2 linked regions of the Homo sapiens genome follow. The protein of the gene in region 1 purifies or fractionates together with the protein of each later gene. This does not show direct contact. Each region holds a gene or a part of one and is shown on either strand. Other genes may lie near its edges.

What was found. The genes of interacting proteins can lie anywhere in the genome.
Region 2: the proteins of KLF15 (region 1) and VWA2 purify together in Homo sapiens (affinity purification with mass spectrometry; 2 studies listed by BioGRID and IntAct, with this or other methods). This does not show direct contact.

The regions. Positions count from the first base shown.
Region 1 is NC_000003.12:126,342,131-126,347,432, forward strand, and holds the end of KLF15 (Krueppel-like factor 15), read right to left. Parts: intron 1,766-5,302; coding exon 1,597-1,765; 3' UTR 505-1,596; downstream 1-504. UniProt on the Homo sapiens protein: Transcriptional regulator that binds to the GA element of the CLCNKA promoter. Binds to the KCNIP2 promoter and regulates KCNIP2 circadian expression in the heart. Is a repressor of CCN2 expression, involved in the control of cardiac fibrosis.
Region 2 is NC_000010.11:114,234,390-114,242,268, forward strand, and holds the start of VWA2 (von Willebrand factor A domain-containing protein 2 precursor), read left to right. Parts: upstream 1-4,864; 5' UTR 4,865-5,180; intron 5,181-5,224; exon of another isoform or gene 5,225-5,482; intron 5,483-7,386; exon of another isoform or gene 7,387-7,879.

The DNA of each region.
Region 1 (5,302 bases):
CGAGTCTCACCTCTGCCTGCTCAGGATTCCTAACACTTTCACAATTACCCACGCCAGTAGGAAATGGCACAGCCACGTTCCTAAGGGGGTAAATACTCTGCCAAGGCACAGCAAACATATAGGGCATGTGTAATAGGTTTGGTGGACTGGATGGGGGTAGGAAGTGCAAGAAAGGGTCTCCGATAGCAGAGTAGGTGAGCCTCGCAGGACTGGCCAGGCCTGAGGCAGCTTCCCACAGGTGCTGTCGGAATGTGGGCTGGATTTGGGTTTACGGAGCTCCAGGTCAGGGAGCCGGGATGAGCAGAATCTCAGCAGCTGGCCTGGAGCTGAGCTGTATGGGAACCCTACCCTGCTGGACCGGGGCTGGACCCCAAGGGGCCTTTCTATCCCTCCAAATACAAAACAGAGTTCCCTGAACTCTGCGAAGGTGGAGACATAGACTCGGCCCCAGAGTCACCTCCACATCCCGGCAAAGCAGGAAAACAGCACATGAATGCCAAAAGCTGTGAGTTCTTTTTCTTTTTATTGGCAAAGTAAATATATTTTTATGAAGGACCAAAGAAAATATACGTAATTGTAACATATGTACACCAGCTTCATAGATTTTTTTAAATTTCAAATTTACACAAATGTTGATATGTTATTAAAAGATATTTTATGTGGATGGACCTATGTACAGTTTATTTACATACATTCATAGGATGTGAAATAAACCTGTCAAAACAAGCTAGTTCATTTATTAATTTCTAGACAAAATAAGGAATGCATTTCTAAATCAGGGTTGGGAGGCTCTATCTAGTTCTCTCACACCCAGGACAGCCTGGCCCTCTCCTCCCAAGGCCACCCTAAAGGCTGGTGTCTGGATTTGTCTGGGAAACCGGAGGAGGGGACGAGCCCCTGGGTACAGGCCCTTCTGGCTCTGTCTGCCCTGCACATTTAACTCAAGCACATGCACTGCCAGCCCCCTAGTGGGGGACGCTTTTCACCTCTCTCCCACATGAGGGCCCAGCGGCCCGGTCCTGCCCCCCCCCCCCCCCCCCCCCCCCCCCGGCTCCAGGGACCTGCCCACACCCTCTGGTGATCATGCTGAGCAGGCATCTTAGACAAAGCCACCCTCACACCACAGTGCAGCCCTGGACTTCTGGCCTACTTCCTTCTCCTCCAGCATGACTCTCTCTGGAAACCCAACATTTCAAAACTGCACATTTCATCTTCCCCTAGCACTAAAGTTCTGGCCTTGGCCCAGGATGGGGGAGCCCAGTGGGAGAAGGGCCAGGTCCCCAAAACTCTGCCTGCAACCAGCGGCTGCAGCAGAGGCCTGGCCACCGCGGGAAGGCACGAAGGCACGAAGGCACGAAGGCCTGCCTCCAGCCCCGTGCGCCTGGGGCCCAGCCCCCAGGGACGCGGGTTCGAGGCTCTAAGTACTCCCGAGAAAGGCAGCGGTTGGCGGGCCCTGGGTTCACACCTCCCAGGCTTCAGAAGGTGGGCTGGTAACATTGCCATGTCCCTCTGGAGGAGGCAAATAAATTATTGCTTAAAAAAATGGGGATGGGGTGGGGATCCGGGGTGACGGACAGGCTGGGGTTCAGGGCGCTTTCAGTTCACGGAGCGCACGGAGCGGCTGCTCCGCGGGAAGCGGTGCACCTTGATGTGCTTGGAGAGGTGGTCGCTCCGCGCGAACTTCTTCTCGCACACAGGACACTGGTACGGCTTCACACCTGAGTGCGAGCGCCTGTGCCGCGACAGCTCGTCAGAGCGCGAGAACCTGCGGGACATGGCGCGGTCAGCGAGGCCTGGCCCTGCCTGCCCCTGCCTGCCCCGACCCCACGAAGTTGCCGGGATGCAAGGCGTGCACCTGGCACTCACCCAAAGGGTGGCTGCGCAGACCTGCAGCCTCTACAGGATTAGGGGAGGGTCCCCCATCTACGTCGGTAAGGCTATACCAGTTCTCAAAATACCATTTTTTTTTCTTTTTTTGAGACAGGCTGGAGTGCAGTGGCGCCATCACAGCTCACTGCAGCCTCCCGGGCTCAATCAATCCTCCTTAGCCTCCAGAGTAGCTAGGATTACAGGTGTGCCCACCACACCCAGATAGTTTTTGTATTTTTTTTTAGAGACCAGGCCTCCCTATGTTGCCCAGGCTGGTGTCAAACTCCTGGGCTCAAGCGATCAGGCTACTTCAGCTTCCCAAAGTGCTGGGATTAAAGGCGTGAGCCACTGTGCCAAGCTGCCCCTGCCACCCCTCCAAGATGGAAAGAACTACAGTAAAGGCTCATGCTGGCACAGTGGGCATTCTCTGTTGGGAACTGCCAGAGCAGCTGGTAAAAGCTCCCAACAGGAAAGGACCCCAATGCTACCAGGGACCAGGGCTTCCCTCCCACAGCCCACCCAGTGTGCAGGGGTCTCTGAGGCCACAGGTGCACTCAGTCGCTCAGGCCCTGATGCTGGCTGCCTCTCACCACCCTGGCCTCATCTACCCCACTGGACCAGAACTCCACAGGGGCATCTGTGAAGGCCTGTACAGGACCGCCCATCCGGAGGGGAAACGGAGGCCTGGGAGGAGGAAGCAGCACAGGGAGAGAGGTCCTCAGACTTGAGTCCACCCACTCCTGAAACCAGCTGTGCTGGAAGCTGGGCCCTCTAAGGCAGGCCCAAATAAAGATTGACCCTGCAAAGTGTATCTGGGAGTTCAGGTGGCTCCCGACATTTCGCTTTCTTGGCCCTGCTGGCCTGGGAGCAGGCACTCATGTGACAGTCAAGAGCCCAAGCTGCATCGAGGGCCTGGACTGCTTGCCACCAACCTCAGGGATTTGAGGCCCTCTCCACCCCTGGCTTGGCAGCAGGTCCCTCCCACCCCACCTACCCCTCCCACGACACACTATCCCGCTCTGTGCTCCACCTGCATTGACCTTTCCTTGGTCCTTCTTGCCACAGGCCATTTGCACATACTGTTCCCTCTTTCTAGAATGTTCTTCCCTCCCCCTCCTTGCTCTCTCCTACCCATTCCTTAGAGCTCAGCTCGAATGTCACTTCCTTAGGAAATCCCTCCAGGACTGCATCCAATTCTAGGCTCCTGTGGCATTACACACCTCTCTCTCCTCATTCTTGCTGTTGTTTTGATTTTAAATTATCTTCAACTTTTTGATGACTGTCAGTCTGTCCCACTAGACTGTCAGCTCCATGACAAAGGACATGTTTGTCTTGGTTCCCGGTGGTCTTCCCATGACCAGCCCAATGCCTGGTATATGGTAGGTGCTGAGGAGGTGGATTTCAATGCAAGAGTGGGCACAGCAAGCAGCCCTAGGGGGGCAGACACTGTCAAGGAGCAGTCCCAAAGCATGCACGCACACACACACGGACAAATACATGCCCACACATACAGGCACACAAACATACACGGACGAATATGTGCCCACACATACTCACACACACACACACACAGGCACAAATTCATGCCCCCATGTACTCACGCACACACACACACACAGGGACACGAGGCCCAACACCCCTTTGTGGACCAGGGCCACCCAGCGAGAGGCGGTGCCCAGAGCAGCAGTTCCCACCCAGCAATTGGTAAGGGCTGGTGATGCCCTGGCGCCCTGACCCTGTGGGTGGAAGAGCAGAAGGACCCAGCAGAACATGCTCTGGACAAGGCACAGGGGGTGGCAGGAGGGCCTGCAGGAGGAGACAGGAACTCCGACTCACATCACAGAGTGGTGGTGGCACCAGGCACAGGGCAGTGCTTTCAGCACATCTCCAGACTAGGTGAAGCCCAACTGCCCTGCCTGTCAGAGGAGGAAACTGAAGCTCAGGGTGCTGAGGGCCTGGTCCAGGTCACTGACAAGACAGGGCCCCTGAGGCTGGAGCAGAGGTCTTGACACAGCCCCCTGCCCTGGCAATGGCAGATGACCTGGACTCCCAGTCAGCAGAGCCCCCCAGCCTCCTGTACAGGCCTGGATGGGTGTGTGTGTCACAGGGCCCTGTGCCAGTGAGGAAATGGGATAAATGTGCCCTGGCAGTCAAAGCTGACACCTGTGCTCCTGGGCAGGACACCTGCCCCCAGCTGCAGCTGGGCACACAGCTTCTGAGCAGAGGAGCTGGCCCAGGGCAGGGGTAAGCAGAAAGCTGCAGACACAGAGTGCCACGCCTCCCAGGCTGCAGCCCTGGGGTCACCCAGCATCTCACTGGCCAGGGAACCAGGATGAGCCAGCCCCATTGGACTGGCAAGACCATGGCAAGGGTTTAAAGAGGCCAAGTCACACAGCCCAGGGGACAGAGTCTCAGGCTCCTGCCTTGACAGTTCCCACCCCACTGGGTGCCCTGAATGGTCCTTTCTGGGCCTCAATTTCTTCATTCATCCAATGAAGACTCTGGCATTCCTGCCCACCTTCCAAGACTCATCTCAAAGGCCACAGGTGGTGACGTGGGGCCACACAGATCTCTGGTCATGGTGACACCCTGGGAAGGACAGGCAGATGAGATAGAACCAAGCTGGACAACATGCTGTCCTCACCTGAATTCCCTCCCTGCTGCCACAGGGTCCTGGCACCTGAGAGGAACTTCCCTGGGAACTGAGCCCTCAGAAGACCCCCTGCCTCACCCCTGCATGCCACATTCTCCCAAACAGCAGCCAACAGAGAGCCCTGGGGACTACAGTGGGGGATGTGGGAACCCGGTGGGTAAGATGCAGCCCTTGTAGGCAGTAAGCTCTGCCACTTACCAACCAGGCAAACTAGGAAAGTCACCAAGCTCCCTGAGCCTCAGTTTCTCTACCCAGACAAAGGGAGAACAAAAGACCTATTCCTGAGGACTGTGAGGATTGTACAAGGCAACCAGTAACGGTTTAGAGCCCTGCTTAGCACGTGGCAATTATTCAAGAATGATGAGCTCTTATCACCTGCATGGAGTTGAGTGTTGGGCCTGGTTCCTGGTGGGTCCTGCTGCAGACAGGGCAGCACTATGATTTGTGCTGAGCTGTAGGGCAGAGGGTACACAGGGGTCCAGTGTCTCTCTAGAGCAGCTATAATGTCAGGGCTGGTGCATACAGCACTTCTGTATGAAGGCGTCCCTTCCTTGAGACACTAACCCTCATCCGCCAGACAACACCGCAAACAGTCCAGTCTCAGAAACTGCAATGGAAATGGTGCTCCCTAGAGTTGTGCAGTTCACAACCTGCCCAACCATACTGGGGGCCTCTGCCTACAGAGGGAAGGAGGTCAGAAAAAGCCTCAATGCAGAGGGGTCATGAGAGCAGGCTGGGAGCCAGACCCCTAAGTTTGAATCCTGCACCTACCACCTCTTG
Region 2 (7,879 bases), on another chromosome or scaffold:
CCTACTCTGCCTCCAGAGTATACCCAGATGCCTCTCTAAATGTGTTCCATGAATACTTAGTTAAGGCAGACATGTGATGACTAAAATTCATGATACTGGGAATTTGGAGAGGAGATGGAAATAACATGGAAGTATTGACAGTTTGAGGTAGAGCACTTAGAAAGTTTCATATGTTGGCTGAGTGGTTATTACACAAGCGTGTGCCTTTGTTCCATGTTTACTTGATTCGGCCAGAAAGCACATTTCCCAAAAGCAAATCCAATACAACTTTGCGCATAATTCTCACTGTCTTAAGTAGGAGCTGGGATGGATGCATTAACCCTTCAAACAATTGCTGCCTATTCCATACCTAAGTGGCTTTGGCTTGGAGATGGCAATATTTCTGCTCCTCATGTCCTGTGTCTCTCTCTGCCCCCAACTTTGTTCTCCTTGTTCTTGGCTCCACAGTTAAGAGACCACAGACCAAATTAGGCTCTGGCTTAATTTGCTGCTTGTTGAGCGCTTCTGAGTCAGGCTCTTTGTTTCCTCTAGGATGGTTTCTTTGCTGTTTAGTAGGTACTGTTTCGTGTTCTTTTATTTCTCAATAAGAGGGCTCTGGTTAGTGGCTGCTATGTGGCTTCTGGAAAATATACAACTCTTGGAGCTCTATTAAGCATCCTCCTTTTTGTCTGTTCCTTTCGTGTGTGCTTTACCTTTCATCATTTGAGGGACTGGATCAAAATATTAGTTGGGATTCTAGAGTTAGGAACTGTTGTACCCATCACCCTTTATAGGTCAGGAAACTGAGCAATCAAAAGTTAAGTTTCTTTTCTGTGTTACAAAGCCAGTAGGCAGGAGCCCCCTAATCTGAAGCCACAGTCACTTTACTACAATGGGTGCCTCTGGGTGATGCATGTCACCGAGTACGGATGTCTCCATTTATCCCTGAGTGAAATTCAGTCACCTCTGTGTTTACACTCTCAGTTTACACTAAGACTCTGTGTTTATACCTCTTGTGTTTACAACTGAGACACACGGGACAGCGCAACTTGAGAATTAACATCATAGAAGGTGTCAACTGAAGAATGAGAAAGTTCATGAATTTGGAAAGGAGAGCTTTATTTTTCATAAAGCGTGGCCACTGGCAGGGTAGCCATTGCTACAGTCTGGAAAGTGTAGCCTCCAGCCAGAAACCAGAAACACACTTCCAGGTTGGGAAAAATAAGACAGGAATTTATGCTGAGTGGAGTGGCCAAATACACAGTAAACTATAGGAGGAGTCATGAATATTTATGAAAGATGTACATGTGCAATTAAGCTTCATGACTCTTGATGGGTTACATGTACAAAAAAATGGTATTAGCATGATTCTGGGGTGGAGTTTTTGGCCCTCTTGGGTCAAAAGGTGAAGCAGAGGACACAACTCTCATGGTACATCTTCTATAGACTAGCCAGAGCCACTCCATGGTCCATTGTCTCTTAGGAAGGAATGCTGGTTGCTTGGTTTGTTGAAACCTTAAAAGGAAGGGGCAGCATCAAGTGGTTGGTTCATATCAATAGTAGAGGCCAGGTGCAGTGGCTCACACCTGCAGTCCCAGCACTGTGAGGATTCCTTGAGTTTGAGGAGTTCAAGACCAGCTTGGGCAACAGAGCAACACCTCATCTCTACCCAGAACAAAAAAACCACCAGTGCAATGGTACGTGGCTGTAATCCCAGCTACTCTGGAGGCTGAGGTAAGAGGACTGCTTGAGCCCAGGAGGTCAAGGCTGTGGTGAGCTATGATTGTGCCACTATACTTCAGCCTGGGGGATACAGTGAGACCCTCAAAGATAGCAGGGGTGGAGCAAGTCTTTCCCAAAGGGCTGGTTTCTGTTTAACCCTTAAGAAAGAAGGCTGGGTACTGTGGCTCATGCCTGTGACCCCAGCACTTTGGGAGGGTGAGATGGACAGATTGCTTGAGCCCAGGAGCTCAAGACCAGCCTGGGCAACACAAGGAAACCTCATCTCTACCAAAAAAAAAAAAAAAAAAAAAAAAAACCTGGTGTGGTGGCACGTACCTGTAGTTCTAACTACTCGGGAGGCTGAGATGGGAGGATTAATGGAGCCCAGGAGGTCGAGGCAGGTCTTGAGCCAAGGTCACACCACTGTACTCCAGGCTGGGCAACAGAGCAAGCCCCTTTCTCCAAAAAAAAAAAAAAAACTAATGGCTGATAGTGAAGGAGCAGGTATAACAAGCTGTTTCCCGTCTCCCTTCCAGTCATATATGGGAACTCCGCTTTTAAGATTTCTCTGGATAATTTAAGGTCAGGAGTTCGAGACCACCCTGGCCAACATGGTGAAACCCCATCTTTACTAAAAATACGAAAATTAGCCGGGCCTGGTGGTGGGCGCCTGTAATCCCAGTCACTTGGGAGGCTGAGGCATGAAAATCGTTTGAACCTGGGAGGCGGAGGTTGCAGTAAGCTGAGATCCAGCCACTGCACTCCAGCCTGGGCAGTAAAGCGAGACTCAGTCTCAAAAATATTTCTCTGGGGTCCCCTTGGACAAGAGGGGGTCCTTTCAGTCAGTGGAGGACATGGGGTTTTATTTCTGAGGGCATTTACTGTGTGCAAGTTACCAGGCATTGGGCTGCAAAGATGAATAAGGCAAGCTCCTGGGAAGCAAGAAGCTTACATGCCCCTTAGAATGATTGTAATTCATAATAACTTTATTTTTTAAATCCTTGTAAATCTTCACAAAGGAAGGGATGTCATGGATGACAAAAGTAGCTACCCAGCTTTCTGCATAAAAAGCCTCCACCCCTGCTGGTCACCCACTCAGCACTCAGCACTCACCAGGGCCTGCACCACCTGCCTTCCCTCCTGCCCAAGTGCACACCCCGGACAGACTGATTATACATTGATGTGAAGAAGTCTGAAGCAACAGGTATCTTCACTGTATTTATGCTTTCAGTTCTTCATAATCACAGAATGAAAATGTGAAATACCTCCCCCCCCCCCGCCCCCAATTAAAGACATGCCAAATACTTCAGGAACAACCAGGATTGAAATTTGGCTTCTCCAAGGTAAGCCTGATAAGGTCAAAGTATGCTGGTACCTGTTAAACAGCATAAGGGGTACAGGGAGAGGGTTGTCAAAGGTAGAATTTCCACTTTCTTGAGGACCTGGGGTCTGCCCTTGTTGGACATCTCTGGAGCAGCACAGGCCACTCACCCCATTTGACTATACAGCACTTAAAAATGTGGCGAGTCCAAATTGAGATGTGCTTGTGAGTATAGAATACAACAGGATTGGCCAGGCGTGGTGGCTCACGCCTATGATCCCAGCATTTTGGGAGGCTGAGGCGGGTGGATTACCTGAGGTCAGGAGTTTGAGACCAGCCTGGCCAACATGGCAAAACCCTGTCTTTACTAAAAATACAAAAATTAGCCGGGCATGGTGGTGTGCACCTGTGATCCCAGCTACTCGGGAGGCTGAGGCAGGAGAACCATTTGAACCTGGGAGGCAGAGGTTGCAGTGAGCCAAGATCATGCCATTGCACTCCAGCCTGGGCAACAGAGTGAGACTCTGTCTCAAACAAAAAAAAAAAAAAAAAAAACAAAAAAACAGGACTTTGAAGACAGCATAAAACATCTTTATTGATTACATGTTGAGATAATGTTCCGGATGTTTAGGTTAATACTGAAATCCAGCTTGCTGTTTCTTTTCACTTTTTATTAAATGTGACCACTAGAACATTTAAAATTACACACGTGGCTTGGTCAGTATTTCTCTGGGGCAATGCTGATCTAGAGGCAGAGACCATCCCTCCCCAGCAGTTAGACCTCAAGACTAACTGCTGTCCCCTGTGGGGATGATGTGGTGGTACATTATGTCTGCTGCTCTGGTGTGGCCCTGTTTTTATTTTTGGGTGCTCAGTAAATGTTACTGGGAGAAATGAATTACAGGAAAAATGAGTCCTTTCCTAGCCTCCTTCAATGAGGTTTGCAACATTAAAGTCACCACGGGCCACTTTCACTGGAAGCTGTCAGTGTCGGAGGTTTGGAAATTAACTGAGAACTACAGACAGGAAAGGTGTAAAGCAAATTATTTTCCTATCAGATTGACATTTACAAGAATAATGGGAAGGAGCATGGAAAAGAGGAAGCAGGTCAACCTTCCTTGAGGACAATTAGATAATAGGCATCAAAAGTCTTAAGTTGTATAAAACCTGTATCCTAGAAATTTACCTTTTCGTAGTTTATTCTAAGGAATTAATTGGACAAAAGCACAAAGACATCTAATTGTATTATTAAAATGGAAAGTTTAATATTCAACAATAGCAGATAGGTTAAGTACATTAGGACATTATGAAGTGGCTTAAAACGGACATTCAAAAAAAGGAAATGGAAAACCTGAGTAATGTACAGCTTGTATGGAATGAACTAAAAATATATAAATTTTTGCATAGGTAGAATGACATTGGAAGAACATACACCACAATGTTAACTGATTATCTCTGGGTGTTGGAAAATGATTGATTTATCAACTTTTTTACTGTTATTTCTTTTCTTTTTTTTTTTTTTGCAATGAACAGGCATGCTCTGGCAGTTTTTAAATGAAGTATGGAAATTATGGATTGTGCAGTCATAGTCAACGTTCATTGAGAGCTTACTTTATATAAAGCATCATGCTCAGCATTGTGCTTTGTGGCATTTGATTTTTTAAAAATCAAACGCCCTCCAATCTTAAGCAAGGATGATGGCCAAAAGGTCGGCTTATTACCCAACTGCAACAATAGGAGGGACAGGTAATTAAAAGGCAATTGCCATGACAAATAGAAAAGATGCCAAAGTCAACATTTTTTCAAGGAGCTATAAAGCCCGTGGAGGAGTCAGCTGACGGCACAGTGTTCGCGGCTGCACCGCTCGGAGGCTGGGTGACCCGCGTAGAAGTGAAGTACTTTTTTATTTGCAGACCTGGGCCGATGCCGCTTTAAAAAACGCGAGGGGCTCTATGCACCTCCCTGGCGGTAGTTCCTCCGACCTCAGCCGGGTCGGGTCGTGCCGCCCTCTCCCAGGAGAGACAAACAGGTGTCCCACGTGGCAGCCGCGCCCCGGGCGCCCCTCCTGTGATCCCGTAGCGCCCCCTGGCCCGAGCCGCGCCCGGGTCTGTGAGTAGAGCCGCCCGGGCACCGAGCGCTGGTCGCCGCTCTCCTTCCGGTGAGTCCCAGCCCCGAGTTGGCTCTGGCGCCCGGGTACCCGCCAGTGCCGGCTGCCGATGACCGATTCACGCTCCCGGTACTGGGGCCCCCTCTGCCCAGCCACCCCTACCCAGAGCACCCGGGCTGCGCGGCCCCGCCGAGGGTGCGGGCTTTGTTCGCATTGTCTGCGCGCACCTGAGCGCGGCCTTCCTGGCACGGCGGCGTCGGGGGAAGAGCGCACCTGGCGCGCGCCTCCCTCGTGGCCACTCGCGGTCCGTCCCGGGCGAGCTGGCGGGGTTTTGGGAGGGGTGCGGTCAGCAGGTAAGTGGGTAGGGGCTCCGGGTACAGGGGTGGAGGAGGGCATGTATTAAACCCAAGCTGCCCTCCTGGCACAGTAGCGGGGCCCCCTTCCCTGGCGGCCGCGGAAAGGGACTCGCCCTTTGAATAAAGGCTTTGGTGACATGCTCGCTTCCACCCCACACCCCACTACAGGACATACACAGGTGTTAAGGGGACTTGGGGCAGTTTTCCCAGGCAGAACGAGTGCCCCCAGCGAAGTGTCTGCAAGCAGAACCTGAGAGGGGCCGGCTGCCCCGAGAGTCCTCGCGCTTGGGCAGTGGGAAGTCCAGGGGTTTGTCGTTCTGGTGACTTCCCCCACCTGGCTCAGCCCTGCTTCCTGCATGTCTCCTTCCCTTCCAATAAGGCTAACAAAACTTTCCCTAGCTAAGCCGACCTTTCCCTCCCGCCTTGGGCCCTTGGCCACCTGCTGGGACGGTGAATGGGAGAGTCTCAGAATTGAACCTTGAAAACTTGCTGGGGGCACCAGACAGAAGAGAAGGGAGGAGGGCACCTTGCTGCTTGTGATTGTGGAATCAAGGGCTCCAGCTGAAGCTGAAAGGGGACTTAGCAATGGGGACCTCATGCCATGTGTTTGATGTCTTGGAGATTGGAATAATTAGAACGTGTACATTTTTCAAATTACAAGCTGCTTTAAGTAAAACCCCAGAACCTCTAAGTGTTTTATAAATTCAGTCCCAAAAATTCAAGGTCTCTTTTGCTGTTAAGGTGACACTATATTAAGAAATGTCGATTTATTGAAGAGTCAGAGAAGTGAAGAGGTCAGAAAGGTACCACTAGAGTTGGCAAAAGCCACAGGCATGAATTTGTAAATGCTGCTGGCTTTCAGCAGGCTGAAGCCATCCTCTCTTGTGACTGATGGGGGTTCAGAGCTCCTCAGGCCTTACTCTTCTTTTGTAAAATCCAGCCCAGAGCCATCTCCTAGTAGTGTAAGAATTTCTCAGACTAGGTCCCCAGGCAAATCCCAGGTTGGAGAAGAGGATTGCTTTCCTCATCATCTCTGGCTGAAAACCATCAGTGTATTTTCATTAAATCTGGTTTTTGGTCTACCGTACAGAGATTACAGCCAGTATTTCCCCTCTCTTCAATAGGCACAAGCCCCTGGGATATCCGAATCATAGTCAGAAGCCCATGTTTTTACAGATGAGGAAACTGAGACCCAGTTTTAGAGTGTTAGGTTCAAAGCAAAATTGAGCAGAAGGTACAGGTTTCCCATATACCTCCTGTCCCCGCCTATGCACAGACTCCCCCATTGTCAGCATCCCCCACTGCAGTGGTACATTTGTTCCAACTGATGAACCGACACTGGCACATCATTATGACCCAAAGTTCACAGTTTGCCCTGGGGTTTGCTCCTGTTGTACATTCTATGGCTTTGGACAAATGTAAAATGACATAAATCTGCCATTATAGTATCAAACAGCATAGTTTCACTACCGTAAAAATCTTCTGTGCATCCCACCCTCCCTACAACACATGGTAATCACTGATCTTTCTACTGTCTCAATAGTTTTACCTTTTCCAGAATGTCTTATGATTGGAATCATGTAGTACGTAGCTTTCTCAGATTGGTGTCTTTCGCTCGGTAATATACACTGACATTTCCCCTCCTGGCTTTTTAATGAGCATCATAAAAACAGAATAGTTATTTGGCAGTGACGGCATCATAAGCTTGTGGTGAAAATGCCTTTTTTGTTAATAACTCCCCTGATGTGTGTGCATCTTACAAAGCATTGTCCTCACATCCTCAGTACCTGGAAGGGTACCGGGCACAGGGCAGATGCTTAATAATTTTTACTGGGTAAATGAAATTTCATGTAATTATAGCAATGAGAGGGTCAGCAACACTACGAGGTTGTTTTAGAACAGTGGTCCTCAAACTTTTGCAGTGCATATATCAGTAAATGAAAACCTAGTTTAATTGGGAGGCCTGCAATAGAATTGCTCATTTTTAATTTTATCCAATAAGGCTATTTTAAAACAAATCCCACCCCCCTCCCTATCATCAAGGAGGCTATTGGAAGTCTGTTGGTGATTGTGTGTGTGCATTCCCTGCAAAATGTTTCTGTATAACCCCAAGGCAGCACAGTGGGACAGCTGAATGTATTTGAAGTCCCTTCCTTTGTGTGACCTTTCGTCTTCTAAACAGCTCTGGACTGCTTAATTTTCCTCTTCCACCTACCACATTAGCTGCTGACTTTCCTTGAATGTGATTACTACCCTCGGTCCTCCCCTTCCTTTTCCTGATCATGAGTCTCTTCTCTTGAACTAGATTTCCCTGGTCTCAAATTAGGAAACTTTGCCCTTGCCCCGGGAGCCTTTGCATCGTGGTTTCATGGGGTCCTGGCGACAACCTTTCCA